2 separate regions of the Homo sapiens genome follow, and region 2 is linked to region 1. The links come from fine-mapping of genetic effects on gene expression. A gene starts in region 1. The other region holds a variant in brackets. All regions are shown on one strand. Distances are from middle to middle.

Evidence for each region. PIP is the estimated chance that this variant, and not a neighbour inherited with it, causes the effect.
Region 2: its variant is the best candidate, but not a certain one, in a credible set for the expression of BET1L in whole blood (TOPMed, PIP 0.82).

Annotation. Positions count from the first base shown.
Region 1 is chr11:206,331-209,122 of GRCh38, reverse strand. It overlaps BET1L (Bet1 golgi vesicular membrane trafficking protein like), which reads left to right and starts at 1,724. Exons shown (of 4, transcript NM_001098787.2): 1 at 1,724-1,820. The coding sequence starts at 1,802. RIC8A (RIC8 guanine nucleotide exchange factor A) reads right to left here and starts at 1,415. Exons shown (of 10, transcript NM_001286134.2): 1 at 185-1,415. The coding sequence starts at 268. RefSeq lists enhancers at 1-134, 209-828, 804-973, 829-1,450, 1,997-2,498 and silencers at 33-142, 213-502, 503-701, 1,763-1,882, 1,993-2,052.
Region 2 is chr11:243,885-246,676 of GRCh38, reverse strand. PSMD13 (proteasome 26S subunit, non-ATPase 13) reads right to left here. Exons shown (of 13, transcript NM_002817.4): 3 at 2,602-2,636; 4 at 2,461-2,516; 5 at 2,208-2,251; 6 at 1,916-2,002. Among named protein-coding and RNA genes, the nearest start is that of PSMD13, 8.3 kb to the right of the region's middle. The variant G/A (reference allele first, on the strand shown) is at 1,412.

The DNA.
Region 1 (2,792 bases):
CCACCCAACGGGTGCACCCCCACTCTCCCCGCAACACTGCATCCCAGACCTGCCCCCCGCACCCCGCCGCGTCCCCTACGCTTGCTGACACAGCCTCTGCCTCACCCACGCCCTCCCTGCTACCCGCGCACGACCCTGCCCCACCCCCTCCGTGCCCGCCCCCCGGCCTCAGGCGGCCGCTTACCTCCTGGTTGTATGACCGCAGAGCTTCCATAATCACATCCTCCTCACCCGTCTCCACGGCTTCTGCAACCGCCCGGGGCTCCATGGCGCGCCGGGGAAGGCGGGACGGGCCCTTCCTCAGCCGTTCCGGGCCGCAGTTCGCCGGCCCCGCCCTGGCCCAGAAAGCCCCGCGCCAGCGCGCGGGGGAGGCCGGGACGGGGCGCGGCGTCTGGTGGCGCTTTAACGGGGCGCAGCGTCTGGTGGCGCTTTAAGGGGGCGCGGCCTGAGGCAGAACTGGCGGCTCGGAGGTTTTAAGACCCGAGTCGAGGGGCTGAGTCGCTCTGAACCGAACTGACCCCTCTCCTTGTGACCCGCGCTTCTTGGGCCAGAAGTTCCAACAGGAAACGATCTCAGCCCCCACCGTGCCCTGCCACACACACAGTGACGCCCCTCGAGCTCCACAGAACCGATGGGATGTAGAGGGGAAAGCCGAAGTGGAAAGGAATTTTCAGTCCTGGGCCATTGGGTTCGTTAGGCGTTTGCTGGGGAATGCAGGCGAACGGGATTCCCAGGTCCCTGCCTTTGTGGAGCTTATGTTCCAGAGGGGAAGGGGGACAAGGAAAAACAAAAGGACACGAGGCGGTCACAGGGCTGTGCTTCAAAAGAAGCAAAAGGCGACTGCTGGGCTGCAACGGGCTGTGAGGAAGTGCTGTTTTTGCTGACACCGGACGGTGGGAAGTGAGCCGGGAAAAGACTGGAGGAGCCACTCCAGGCAGAAGGAGCAGCACTTGCAAAGGTGGAGGGGCCGAGAGAAAGGGGAGCAACCCAGTCTGGCCTGGACTCAGTTCCCTCTTGAAAAGCAAAGATCCTGCGTGTCCGTTTCAGTGGCCGTCATGAGGATTCAGTGACGCACAGGAAGCGCGATCCACTCGCTCTTCTAACAAGTGCCCGGGAGCAAAGGCGTCTACGGCCCCCAGTCCCCGCGCCGCCTCCCAGTCTCTCTCCCGGCTTCACTTTCCTGTAGTGCGTTCTGTACGGCTGTATTCGACGCGGCGCGCACTCGCAGGCACGAGCGAGGCGCCGATCTCCACTTGACAGAGGAGGCACCCCTGCCCCCACCACACCCAGTGCTCCTCGCGGGCTTCTGCCCGAGGGGTCTGCTCCTTCCTCATGACCCGCCTGTGAATCCTTCCTAACCGTTAGGACCTAACCCACAGAAGCGTCTTTCCACCACCATCGTCTAGGCACTGAGCAAGCAAACGGCCCCGCCCCGCCCCACGTTCACAGGAACACCAAACGTCACATCCGCGGTGCTGCTGTAATCCCAGCACCTTGGGAGCCCGGCAGGCGGGGGCTGCAGTGAGCTGAGATCGCGCCACTGTCTGCGCGACAGTGCTGAAAATAAGCCACAGATATGCCCATCGCTTCCGCGCCCGGCAGTTCCCCACCCTCGGCCCTAAGCCGGAAGTCAGCGAGCCCGAAGCGGAAGGGGCTGGGCTATCTAGGGGCGTGGTCGGTGCGGAGGCGGGGCCATCGCTAGCTGGGGGCGGGGCCGGAAGCTCTTTCCCCGCGACTGCGCCACGTCTGAGGCGGCTGTGGCCGCGTCGGTGTCCGCGTCGAGGAGCCGGGGCAGGGCACGATGGCGGACTGGGCTCGGGGTGAGCGCGGGAGAGCGGAGCCGTTGGGGGCAGGGCCGGGCCGAAACCGACGCCGCTGCCTGTAGAGCCGCGTGCGCCTGCCTCTGGCCCAGCTGGGGTGACCTCGGCCGAGAGGACCCTGTCAGGGGGGCGGATTCGGATCCTTCCGGGTCCGAGCAGGGCCGGGTTTCGGCCGGCACTGCCGTTAGGACCGAAGGCGCGCGTGGCGGCCCAGCAGCTCCAGCGAGGGGTCGCGCAGCAGCGGGGTCTCCCCACTCCCCGCCGCCCCCTGTGAGATCGTTCTGCATGGGTTCGGGGTGAGCGGGAGTCGGCATTCGACAGGTCCCGAGGCCAGGCCCTAGGAGTAGAGGCTGTGCTCCGCTGGTGTCCAAGCAGGACTCTTACTTTGGCCTCGGTGGCCCCATTTCCCCTCCTGGAGCCCGTGTTCTTGTCTGCAAAGTGGGATATTGATGCCTGTCTCTGTGAGGTGTTATGATGATTAAAGGAATTTATAAATATGAAGTGGCTGGAAGGACGCTGGCATCCCTTCCTGACACTGAAGCTAGGGAGGAGGTGGTTCTCACGCACCTGATGTGACAGAACTTCCTTATCCCCTGGCCCAGCCTGTCACAGGCCAGGCCTCTGCGAGCACTCTGCCCTGGGTGTTGCAGGAAGCCCCATGCGGGATGCAGACCAAGGATCCCGCTCCTGGTCGACCTCAGCTCCCGTCTCGGGGAAATTGGGAACTTTGCTCAGCCATTTTCTGTGCGGTAAAGGGCCTTCCCAATGTTCTGTCCTGGTTCCTTGCCACCTCTTCAGGACCTAGCTCAAAGGTCGTCTCTGCAGGAGCCTTTCTGCTGCCTTGCTGGGTACTTTTCCCAAGTCTTTTCTATGCTCTTAGCAGAGTTTACTCTTTTTCTATAAGAATGGGCTCCACATACACAGATGGTGACCTCCCTGGATGCAAGTGTCACATCATACTAGCACCCCAGG
Region 2 (2,792 bases), 38 kb before region 1:
GGTGCTGAGGGAGCATGTATCTGGGAAAGGCAGAGATGCACACAGCTTGTACCTGTAGTCTCTAGGCATACATCTTGGTGAGATTCTGCCCACACACAAGGGACCAGGCACAGAAATACTTATGGCAGTACTGTTTGTGATAGTAAAAAAAACAACCTAAATCTCCCTTTTTTTTTGAGACAGAGTCTCGCTCTGTTGCCCAAGCTGTAGTGCAGTGGTGCGATCTCGGCTCACTGCAACCTCCGCCTTGCAGGCTGAAGCAATTCGCTGCCTCAGCCTCCCGAGTGGCTGGGACTACAGGCGCCCGCCACCATGCCCGGCTAATTTTTGTGGTTTTAGTAGAGACGGGGTTTTACCATCTTGGCTGGGTTGGTCTTGAACTCCTGACCTTGTGATCCACCTGCCTCAGCCTCCCAAAGTGCTGGGATTACAGGTGTGACCATCGCACCTGGCCCTAAATCTCTTCAATAGGAGACTGGATACATATGTTGTGAAACACTTATACAATGAAATACCGTATAGGAGTAACAGCACATTGGTTACACATACCCACATGACTCTGAAACCTAGTATTGAGCCAATGTTAAAACGCTTGAGTTACACACCCCTATTTAATGAAGGACAAGGAAATGCATGGGCATGAGAGGGAGCCTGGCTGGGGGAGAAGTGTGGTCTGAAGGGTACTGGGACCCTGACTGTGCCGTGTGGCTTCATTCCTTCCTAAGCTGGTTGGGGCACATGGATGCCTATTACAGCATTCTGTACTGTGACTTATAGCTTTCAATATGTCTTAAAATATTTGAAAATAAAATGCACTAAGTATGCATATGGGTTAGGACTGACAATAAACAATAAAAAGTATCTTTTCAGGGCAATGAGGACATGAACACTTTAACCCTTACCCCCAATATTTTCTTTAACATTGTGATTAGCAAACACACACACACACAAACACACACACACAAACACACACAAACACACGAACACACATGCAAACACACACACACACACACACACACACACACACACACACACGTTCTGGTTCAACCAGGTGGACCAGCCACATGTCGGTTTCACTGCCACCCACATCCATACCTGTCTCCCAACTGCACCAAAACATAATTGAACATAAGAAAGACATAAAAATAGACAGGATACTTCAACAACATTTAGGAGGCAGAAGGAAGATGGAGAAATAGCACGTGACATGCCAGTGGTGTGTAGGCTGACCTTGGTCAGGGAGAACCAATGTGCTTTGGGCTGACTGAGGCCATGTGGAGTCATTATTAGACGGATGTGCTGTGGTCACACAGGGGAGTGCTCTTTTGTTTAAGGGCAACAGGCATTGTATCAGCAACTTACTCCTAAGTGGTTTTGGAAAAAAGCTACAGACACACACAAAGGCAAAAGC[G/A]GTAAAAGGTTAGCAATCGGGGGGGCTGGGCGCAGCGGCTCACGGCTGTAATCCCAGCACTTTGGGAGGCTGAGGCAGAGGGATCACTTGAGGTCAGGAGTTCCAGACCAGCCTGGCCAACATGGCGAAACCCTGTCTCTACTAAAAATACAAAAAAATTAGCCGGGCAGGGAGGCACGCGCCTGTAATTCCAGCTACTCAGGAGGTTGAGGCAGGAGAATTGCTTGAACCCGTGAGGCGGAGGTTGCGGTGGGCCGAGATTGCACCATTGCACTCCAGCCTGGGAAACAGAGCGAGACTCCGTCTTTAAAAAAAAAAAAAAAAAAAGGTTTGCAATGGGAAATTTAGGTTGGGGTATAGTAGTTCTTTGTGTTATTTTTGCAACTTTTCTGTAATGTAAAAATGTTTTAAAATAAACAGTAAAGAAGAAAAATAGGTTATTTTTTTTCCTAGGGTTTTAAATAATTTTAAACCAAAGATAAATCTGTATTATGGTGATCTCACCTTTGTAACCTGTAGGTCCCCGATGTTTAATTTTAGAGCTCCAATTGCTGTTTTACACAGGATCACTGCCTCATCACTACTTTTCACCTAAGACATCAAAAACAAAAACAAGAAACCTCAGAATGTGGGCAGTTGACTAACAAAGGAAGCTAGCTACTTGTACATTAACTTAACCTTGATGACTAGAGGCCTTGTGGTCTCTAAAGGTCTGGACAGTGAGCATGAACACAAGCTGTTAAGTCATACATACTCTAAAAGGTACTAAAAGGTATTGCCCACATGCCACATTTACCTTCTCACGAGTCTTTTCCAGAAAAGTAAGAGCCACATTAGGATCTGGAAAAGAAGGAACAATCAGAAGGACCATCAACAGACTGGTTTCTGCTAACCAAGACACCCTTAGGTAGGGTAATCTTTAGGTTTTGACCATAAAGTATAATAAAAACATAATATCTGATACAGAAAACACAAAAGTTCAGTTAACTTATATTTCAATTTTAACCACCATTTGGATCTGCTCCTTTATAAAACAAAGTGAGACTTACCAGTCATCTGTCTAACTACATGAAGAATGATTTCCACGAGGGACAAAGGGTTCACCCTGAAATAAAAGCCACCAGCCTTTGAGCACCGCCGAGCATCAATGCACTCATTTTCAAAGTGAAAAACGGATGAGAGGCTTTTACCTGTGTTCAAATTCACTGATAAAGTTTTCATAAAGCTGTGAAACCAAAACATGGAGAGAAATTATAGGATGTCTTTTATTCTGCAAAACGAAGACCCCAAACACTATCTTTGGTAAAGAAGCTGCATCAATGCTATCAAGTTGGGAGTGTGCAAGCCACAGTGCCCAGCACACAGTAAGCAATGCATGTTT